Linked DNA regions of Homo sapiens. The protein of the gene in region 2 interacts with the protein of the main gene of each other region in a pairwise test. Each region holds a gene or a part of one and is shown on either strand. Other genes may lie near its edges. The genes, in order: HMG20A, GPSM1 and ZBED1.

Evidence for each region.
Region 1: the proteins of GPSM1 (region 2) and HMG20A interact in binary tests that used the Homo sapiens proteins (3 or more experiments, as listed by UniProt).
Region 3: the proteins of GPSM1 (region 2) and ZBED1 interact in a two-hybrid assay, tested with the Homo sapiens proteins (one large-scale study listed by BioGRID and IntAct).

What each region holds. Positions count from the first base shown.
Region 1 is NC_000015.10:77,423,813-77,427,465, reverse strand, and holds part of HMG20A (high mobility group protein 20A), read right to left. Parts: intron 1-3,653. UniProt on the Homo sapiens protein: Plays a role in neuronal differentiation as chromatin-associated protein. Acts as inhibitor of HMG20B. Overcomes the repressive effects of the neuronal silencer REST and induces the activation of neuronal-specific genes.
Region 2 is NC_000009.12:136,340,948-136,344,600, reverse strand, and holds part of GPSM1 (G-protein-signaling modulator 1), read right to left. Parts: coding exon 3,608-3,653; coding exon of another isoform or gene 3,441-3,607; exon of another isoform or gene 2,763-3,440; intron 1-2,762. UniProt on the Homo sapiens protein: Guanine nucleotide dissociation inhibitor (GDI) which functions as a receptor-independent activator of heterotrimeric G-protein signaling.
Region 3 is NC_000023.11:2,488,322-2,490,995, reverse strand, and holds part of ZBED1 (E3 SUMO-protein ligase ZBED1), read left to right. Parts: intron 1-223; 5' UTR 224-276; coding exon 277-2,361; 3' UTR 2,362-2,674.

The DNA.
Region 1 (3,653 bases), on a different chromosome or scaffold from region 2:
TTATCATTAAAAATCAGTACAATCTTTTAGGGAAATGTAGGTATCATATCTAGAACTACCCATGCTTGTAGAACCATTAATCACACTCATAAGATTTTATCTTCAGAAAAAAAGTCAAATAAGGAAAATAGCTATAGTTTTATTTAATAGTGCCTGGCACATAAAAGGCACTCAAATATTTCTTCAAATGAATACCTTTATTTGTACTGACTTCTCCAAATCACTGCCCTTGGTTCCTTCTCATTAAGATTTATCTATTTTTATTACCTGAGGAGAGCTTTAGAATCAAATTCTAACATCTTTGTCTAGTCTCTATTCTCCCATCTTCCCCAGTAACTTTGTTTTGATTGCTACTAGACTCCTTACCTTAGAATACTCCCACTCTTTAAACTCAGCTGACCGTAACACAGAAACCAAAAAGACCATATACCACATCCTTGACCTAATCAAGAAGAAATCTGAAGCTTCCTTCAAGGTCATAAGATGTTTTTCTCCTTTGTTAATACCTCTGTAGTCTAAGTATTTACCAAAATCCCTGCTACATTAAGACAAAAACCCAGAAGCTATCCTCATATCCATCCTCACCTGATCCTTAACATACCTTTAGCCCTGTACCTAGCTGCTTATATTTCTCTCTAGGATCTGAGAAAGAATGATCATTTCCTTGCTTTCACACCTCTTGCTTCTTTCTTCTGGCTCCATTCAAAATTCTCTATTCTTCAAGTCTAAGTATCTCTCTCTTTTAGATATAATTCACATACCATAAAACTGACCCCTTTAGTGTATATTTCAGGATTTTTTTTGTACAGTTGACCCTTGAACAACATGGGTTGAACTGCATGAGTCTACTTATATGCTGATTTTCTTCTGCCTCCACCACTTGAGACAGTAAGACCAACCTTTCCTCTTCCTCCTTCTCAGCCTACTCAATGTGAAGATGACAAGGATGAATACCTTTATGATAATCCACTTCCACTTAACGAATAATAAATAGTAAACATATTTTTTCTTCCTTATCATTTTCTTAGTAACATTTTCTTTCTCTAGCTTATTGTAAGAATACAGTACATAGTACATGTAACATATAAAACATGTGTTAATCAACTATTTATGCTATTGGTAAGGCTTCCAGTCAGCAGTAAGCTATTTACGTAGTTAACTTTTTGGGGAGTCAGAAGTTATACATGGATTTTTGACAACACAGGGGTTAGCACCCCGAACCCCCTCATTGTTCAGGTGTCAACTGTATATTAGTATACAAGATATTTTAGTATATAAGGTTATGCAACCACCACCACTATCTAATTCTGGCACATTTTCATCACTTCCAAAGGAAACTCCATACTAGCAGTCACTCCCATTCCCATCCACTAATGTACTTTCTGTCTCTATTAGTTTTGCCTAATCTAGACATCTTAAATAAATGGAATCACATAATAGGTTGCCTTTTGTATGTGACTTCTTTCACTTTAATATTTTCAAGTTTTATCCATGTTACAGCAGGTATTGCTACTTTGTTTCTCTTTGTTGCTGAATAATATTCCATTGTATGGCTATATCGCATTTTGTTTAGTCATCCAATAATTAATGGACATTTGAGTTTGCCTTTTACAAATAAGGCTGCTACAAATATTTGTGTGCAAGTTTTTGTGTGAACATGTTTTAAGTTCTCTTGGATATATACCTAGGAGTGGAAATACAAGTTAAGTGTCCAAATATTTGATATAAAAATCTATTTGGTTTCTGAGTTCAGGTAGCAGAGGGTATCTCTCACAATGCAAACAATTCTATATTAAGCTCTCCATGCCATCCCTACTCAAACACCTACCATCTTCAAAGTCTGCAGATATTAGTAACAATTTACTTTTTTCCAATTAAATTGAGGAGCAGAGATCAGTTCTTACAGCTCCAGTTATATAGGAGGTGCTTAATATATGCTTATCTGACACCCTAAGAAGCTCCCAAATGAGAGAATGATGACTTACTATTCACTCTTTCATTTTATAGATATTTGAGTGTCTAATGTATGATAGCCATTGTGCTGATGCTGGGCATAATTGTGGACAAAAGTTATTGATCAGTTTTGTCATACTCCAAGAGCCAGCTCACGTCCACAAATATTTACTGAATACCTATGATGTGAATGGTCTTGTGCCAGGTATGACAGCACAGAGTGGAATAAGACCTAGTCTGCAGCCTTTTAGGGAAGGCATAAACTCTACCTACAACAACGCAATAAAAACAAACAAGAGGAGCACTGGACAGTAAGTGCTGTAAGAAAGGTATAATGCTCTGGAGAGTTAATGGACAGAACGTGTACAGTTTGGGAGAGTGTAGAAGAGGATGGATATCAGAAAATATTTCTTAAATGTGGTACTTGAGAAACGACCTCAAAGAAAGTGGCATTTTGATAGATGGGGATTCCTAGGAAAAAAGAGTGTTTCAGGCAGAAAATAGCATGAGCAAAAAAAAATATTAATGCTGGGTGCAGTACAGATTTTTTTCCCCCCAGAGGCGATCCCGTTTGGATGTGTAGATGAATAATGTGAGGTATGATCATAGTGTGAAAGGTCATTTTTGGTTTTCGTATTTAAATAAGTTTAGGAGAATGAGTTGAAAGTCTGCCTGTAACAATTCAAATTACCTTAGTGATTTGTGCCAAGATTAAGATTCCTTTTCTTGAAACTTTTCTATTTTGTATATCTTCTAATCATGGAAATTAGTGATTTCTCCTTCCCACAAGGAAAAAAAATTAAATCTTGACAACTGTGTGAGCATGCTGATAGGGGGACAAGGCTGAAGCTCAGTCAGTCTACCACTGCATCCCATACTGTGGGGAAAATGTAAAGCTTAAAACAGACATGTGGGCAAATCACAATAGCCAGAGTAGCAGAAGCAAGATTGGGGGTAAGATAATTGCATTAATGAAGCTTCTGGCACCAGGCATTGGACCAGGAGATTTACATACAACATTCTGATTCCACCAAACAACCCCATTTGGATTTAGGAAAACTGAGGCTTAGGGAGGTCAAATAAATTGCTCATGGTTACCAAGCTAGTAAGCTCAGCCAGTAAAATGCAGAGACCAGTGCTGAATTTGGGCCTATCTGATCCCATATTTTCCCCACTGTTCACTCTCATTTGTTTTCACAATACAAAAGAAGCTAGAATGGTAGGAAAATGATACATGTATCAATGAAAGGGACTGCATATTTAACACAGGGGCTTCTATGGTCTGGAGAAAAATTAGGCTGAAACATTCAAATCTGGGTTTAGAATGGCTTAGAGATTAAGACCAGGAGAGATCAAGTTTAGGGCTGCTTCTTTACCCAGTCTGAACAACGATCATAACATAGATCTTATTTAGGAATACCAAGGGAGCAAAATTCTAGTTTTAATTTGTAAATTAGAGAGTAAACTACAGTAGAATATGAATATTTGGCCGTATTTACTGTATTCAAAGTCCTGAGAACAGTGACTGGCATATAGTAGACACTCTAAACTTTTGCTTAAATAATGAAAAGTCACGTAAAGGGTATTCTCATTTGAATACCTGTGAAGGCTATGAAATAGAGACAGCAAAGCAGTAAGGTGAAAAACCATTCAGGTTCTTAAGATACTTTCTTTAATCCTCAACCCTACGGCAAAAACAA
Region 2 (3,653 bases):
GAGGTCCTGAGGTTTACATGAGGTCATGAGAATGGAGCCCCATAATGACAAGTGGCCTTAAGAGAAGCCACCAGTGTTCTCAAGCTCCCCCTTCTTCCTCGCTGTCTCTGCTAGGTGAGGACACAACAAGAAAGCGCCGTCTGCCAGCCCGGAAGAGGCTCTCGCCAGCACCCGAGCACACAGCACCCAAACCCTGGCCTTCTGGCCTCCAGAGCCGTGAGGAGTAAACGTCTGCTGTTGCTGCCCCGGCCTGCGGTGCTTTGTGAGGGCAGTCGGAATGGACCATGATGGTCATCTCCCAAAGGTGCTGCAGCCTGCTTCCCCTGTTCCTGTCCGCGCCTCCCCTGCTCCTGTCTGCGCCCCACCCCGCTTCTGTCCGCGCCCCCACCCCGCTCCTGTCCGCGCCTCCCCCCGCTCCTGTCCGCGCCTCCCCCCGATCCTGTCCGCACCTCCCCCGTTCCTGTCCGCACCTCCCTGTTGGGCTTTTCTTTCTCCCAAAGCTCATCCCATGTGGCTCACTCCTGGGCTCCCCGTTCCTCACCTATCAGCTGCTGGACGCGGCTCAGCGGTCTTGGTGCCAGTGAGGGCCCCAGCAGTGCCTGGCACACGGCAGGAGCCTGGTGACCAAGCAGCAGGCATTTACTGTGTATCTGCTGCGTGCGGGACCCTGTGTGCCATTTCCCACACACTGTCCCCTCTGGGCCCTCTTAGGCGCACGGACAGAGGGTGCATCCTCCATCCCGGCGGCTGCCCAAGGGCCACTGGGCTGCTGGAACAGGCGGATGGTGCTGCAGCCACACCTGCCTCGTCCACCCAGGGCCCGAACGCAACAGGCTTACGGGCCCTCAGGCTCGCTGGCCTCTCACCCCTGCCAAGCTCTGTTCCCAGCACTACTGATGGGCCCGTTCCCCAGATGGGGACACTGAGGCACAAGTGGGTCAAGTCACTTGATCAGCTGGCCAGGGCTGGAGCCCACAGCCTAAACTGCAGGGGAGGTTATGCCATGCACATCCCTGACCCCAAGGCCACTCGTTGGGACGTTCAGGGGACTTCTCCCAGGAAGGCTGGTGGCATGCTCCCCCAGTAACTCTTGTGTACCGTGCTCACAACGCCCTGAGCAGGGCCCAGACGGTGGAGGGCTGAGAAGTACGGTCAGCAGGGCCGAGGGCAGTCGCACATCCTGTGGGACAGGCAGGGCCATCGGGGACAGGCCAAGGGCAGGGGGCGGTCCTGCAGGGCTCAGGGCCGGCTCCCTCCTCCCAACATGCCAATCATGCTGCCCGCACCAAGAGTGGCAGCAGAGCCTCCGTCCTGCCTGGCACCCTTGCTGGGGTGGGGGGTGGGCAGCCCAGGAGCAAGTGTGGGAGGCCCGGGCCTGTGCCCTCTGGCCAGGGAGGTGGGGGCTGGTTGCTGTCAGGGTCTCATAGAGGCCACACACCCAGAGGAGCTGGACAAGGGCAGTGGCTGGCAGGGTGGTGACCCCCAGACACACTTCTGGGGCTTCTCTGCTGGCTGGGGAGGGGCCAGCAGAGGGCGGTGAGATTAATACGCTGACTGAGCCGCGCCAAGGCTCTTTGTCCTCCAGCCGCACGTAAGTCTCCTTGTGTTTATCAACGGGACACCAAACCCACCAGCCTCTGCCACGCCCACCGCCCCCATGGACCACGCCCACAACAGCAAGGCCACGCCCCACCGCGTCCCCGCCGGGCTGAAGCCCCACCTCCAGACGACTTCCTCCTCCCTGCCCACACCCCGCTGGGCAGCGCCCTCCTGTGCCCCCAGCCCTGGCGCCCCCTCCGCACGGCCAGGCTCTAGCGCGGCTCTGCACCCCCCTCCCCTCCCGCAGCTCGCAGATCCACCCCGCCCTCCGCACCTGCCGAATGGGGAGGCTGCGTGGGTCCTTCCGTGGCGCCCCCAACCCGCAACGCCGGGTCCAGACTCCCGGCCTCAAGGCCCTGTCCCTGCCAGGCTCAGCTGAGCCGGGGTCTCACCCAGGGCCGCCCAGGCTCTAGGTGTGCAGCCTGCCTCCCACAGCGGCAGCCGGGCGGCGGCCCCAGCCAGGCTGCCGGGCTGCCCTGGGCGGGGAGGAGGACCCTTCCCCAGCCCTGGGGGAGGAGGCGTCCGGCCGGCTGGAAGGGGTCCCGCACTCGGGGCGGCACAGAGGAGCCAGAGAGGGACAGAAGCTGCATTGTTCCAGCGTCCTCCCACTCCGGCCCCCCTTTTCCTTGGCTCCAAGAAAGAAAACGTCGGGAGGACCCAGAGCCGCAGCCTCCGCGGAGCCTTTCCAGAGCTGCTCCCAGCCCTGCTGCCAGTTGCTGCTGGGGTCCCAGATGGTGGCAGTGCCGAGCCAGGGACACAGGAGGGTACTAGGGGTGCCGCAGGAGCTCTCGGCAGAGCTCCCCACCCTTAGGAAACCCCGGCCATGGGTAGAAATAGGCCTGGACATCCTGGGGGGCACATTCCAGCCCATCCCCTACCCACCCACTGCCATCGGTCACAGCACCTTGTCCCACGGACTCGCTGAGGGCCCCAGAGCCTCTGCTCCTTCCTCTGTCTTCAGCCTCTGCGGTGGCTGACATGCACCCCCAATTTCCCAGGAGAGGTCATCGTCAGAAACCCATGAGCACTGTGGCACAAAAACCCAGGGGATGGCTGGGCACGGTGGCTCACGCCTATAATCCCAGCACTTCTGGAAGCCGAGATGGGAGGATCGCTTGAGGCTGGGAGTTTGACACTGGCCTGGGCAACATAGTGAGGCCCTATCTCTATAAAAACATTTAATTATTAAAAATAAGATAAGAAAAAGAAACTCCGGCAGCCCAGCACCACATCCAAGCCTGGTGTTCCCAGCCTGGTCCTTAGCAGGCCTGGGGGGCACCAGGTACGTTCTGGGAGGCAGGCATCCCTTCTCGGGGGCTGGCAAACTCAAGACCTTTGGGAGTGGGGGACACATGGGTGGGGCAGCTGCTCCCCCCAAGCCTGCCCCTCACCCACCTGCCAGCCACCTCAGGAAGTCGGCCCAACCTGGCACCACCCCCCTGGCACCTATTAGTCTTTTCGCTTTGCAGGGGACGTTCTGTCCTGTGTCTGCAGCACTGCTGACCGGCATGGGACGACCAGCGGTCCATGAATGAGGTCACCACGGTGGCCTCGCATGGCCTTGGGCCTTGCCTGATTACTGCCCCAGGCACATAGGGCTCCCACAGCCCAGCCCAGCCCAGCCCAGCCCAGCCCTCTGGCTGATGCCCTCTCGCCTCCCAGCAGCCCTCTCCTACTTGGGTCTGAGGACAGAAGCCCTCCCTGCACCGAGGGCTCCAGGGGGAGGTGGGGGTGGAGGCCCTGGAGCAGCCAGTGGGGCAACAGGCGACCACCTCCTGTCCTTCATCCAGCAGCCCTGCAGCGCCACTCAGGATGCGGGTGGGAAGGGCTCAGGGTGAACCTCAGGCCTGTGCTGTCCCTGAGGCCAAGAAGAACTGGCTTGTAGGCGCCATTTTCTGGCGGCTGCCACCTCCGCCATGCTGGCCTGGCCTCGATCCCACCCCTCCGCAGCTCCTGATGCGGTCCGTGCCTGTGGGGAGCAAGACCCCCCCACAACCCTGGAACTCACCCTGGGCCTCATAGCCGGCCAGGTCAGGCTTCTCTGAGGCTGCCGG
Region 3 (2,674 bases), on a different chromosome or scaffold from region 2:
CGGCATCGCTGCAGTCGGATTAACGTGGAAGAAAGAGCGTATTCCTGCGCTAGGTTCCCTCCTCCACTCTGCAAAAGTGACCCGCAAGGAAGGTCCAGCCGTCCGGCCCCAGTGCCCTTTGGTTGAAAGCGGAGCTGCCCCGGCACCCTGTCTGTCTCCCCGGCAGGGCTCCCGTGCGTGCCTGGGTCCCTTCTCATGCTGTGTTTGTCTTGGCCCTTCTCAGCAGGTCCCCACGCATGAGCAGCCGTCCAGCAGGCAGGCTCCGGTGGAGAAGCAATGGAGAATAAAAGCCTGGAGAGCTCCCAGACAGACCTGAAGCTGGTGGCCCACCCCCGCGCCAAGAGCAAGGTGTGGAAGTATTTCGGCTTCGACACCAACGCCGAGGGATGCATCCTGCAGTGGAAGAAAATCTACTGCCGCATCTGCATGGCCCAGATCGCCTACTCCGGAAACACCTCCAACCTGTCCTACCACCTGGAGAAGAACCACCCCGAGGAATTCTGCGAGTTCGTCAAGAGCAACACGGAGCAGATGCGTGAAGCCTTCGCCACCGCCTTCTCCAAGCTGAAGCCCGAGTCGTCCCAGCAGCCCGGGCAGGACGCGCTGGCCGTCAAGGCCGGCCACGGCTACGACAGCAAGAAGCAGCAGGAGCTGACGGCCGCCGTGCTGGGCCTCATCTGCGAGGGGCTGTACCCAGCCTCCATCGTGGACGAGCCCACCTTCAAGGTGCTGCTGAAGACGGCCGACCCCCGGTATGAGCTGCCCAGCCGGAAGTACATCTCTACCAAGGCCATCCCTGAGAAGTACGGGGCCGTCCGGGAGGTGATCCTGAAGGAGCTGGCCGAGGCCACCTGGTGTGGCATCTCCACCGACATGTGGAGGAGTGAGAATCAGAACCGCGCCTACGTCACGCTGGCCGCCCACTTCCTGGGCCTGGGCGCCCCCAACTGCCTGTCCATGGGCTCCCGCTGCCTGAAGACCTTCGAGGTGCCCGAAGAGAACACGGCGGAGACCATCACGCGAGTGCTCTATGAGGTCTTCATCGAGTGGGGCATCAGCGCCAAGGTCTTCGGGGCCACCACCAACTATGGCAAGGACATCGTGAAGGCGTGCTCCCTGCTGGACGTCGCAGTGCACATGCCCTGCCTGGGCCACACCTTCAATGCCGGCATCCAGCAGGCCTTCCAGCTCCCGAAGCTGGGGGCGCTGCTGTCGCGCTGCCGCAAACTGGTGGAGTACTTCCAGCAGTCTGCCGTGGCCATGTACATGCTCTATGAGAAGCAGAAGCAGCAGAACGTGGCCCACTGCATGCTGGTGAGCAACCGCGTCTCCTGGTGGGGGAGCACGCTGGCCATGCTGCAGCGCCTCAAGGAGCAGCAGTTCGTCATCGCCGGGGTCTTGGTGGAGGACAGCAACAACCACCACCTCATGCTGGAGGCCAGCGAGTGGGCCACCATCGAGGGGCTGGTGGAGCTCCTGCAGCCCTTCAAGCAGGTGGCCGAGATGCTGTCGGCCTCCAGGTACCCCACCATCAGCATGGTGAAGCCGCTGCTGCACATGCTCCTGAACACCACGCTCAACATCAAGGAGACCGACTCCAAGGAGCTCAGCATGGCCAAGGAGGTCATCGCCAAGGAGCTTTCCAAGACCTACCAGGAGACGCCCGAGATCGACATGTTTCTCAACGTGGCCACCTTCCTGGACCCCCGCTACAAGAGGCTGCCCTTCCTCTCCGCCTTCGAGCGGCAGCAGGTGGAGAATCGCGTGGTGGAAGAGGCCAAGGGCCTGCTGGACAAGGTCAAAGACGGCGGCTACCGGCCGGCTGAGGACAAGATCTTCCCGGTGCCCGAGGAGCCTCCCGTCAAGAAGCTCATGCGGACATCCACGCCGCCGCCCGCCAGCGTCATCAACAACATGCTGGCCGAGATCTTCTGCCAGACAGGCGGCGTGGAGGACCAGGAAGAGTGGCATGCCCAGGTGGTGGAGGAGCTGAGCAACTTCAAGTCCCAGAAGGTGCTTGGCCTCAACGAAGACCCCCTCAAGTGGTGGTCAGACCGCCTGGCCCTCTTCCCCCTGCTGCCCAAGGTGCTGCAGAAGTACTGGTGCGTGACGGCCACGCGCGTCGCCCCTGAGCGTCTCTTCGGATCCGCCGCCAACGTGGTCAGCGCCAAGAGGAACCGGCTGGCTCCCGCGCACGTGGACGAGCAGGTGTTTCTGTATGAGAACGCCCGGAGTGGGGCAGAGGCGGAACCCGAGGACCAGGACGAGGGGGAGTGGGGCCTGGACCAGGAGCAGGTGTTCTCCTTGGGGGATGGCGTCAGCGGCGGTTTCTTTGGCATTAGGGACAGCAGCTTCCTGTAGCGAGGAAGCGTGTTGTCTTACAAGTCATCCCCGCAGCAGCCCATTGGATGCTTTGCTGTAAATACTTACCCGGTCAGCTTGGTTTTGAACCTCAGAGACCATCCACTGTCTTTGACACCTAGAAGGTGGAAAAAGGAAAGAGATTTGAGAAGTGAGAGAGGGTCGGGGGCGGTGGCTCCTGTCTATAATCGCAGCACTTTGGGAGGCCGAGGTGGGCAGATCAGCTGAGGTCAGGAGATCGAGACCAGCCTGGCCAACATGGCGAAACCCCGTCTCTACTAAAAATACAAAAATTAGCCAGGACTGATGGCAT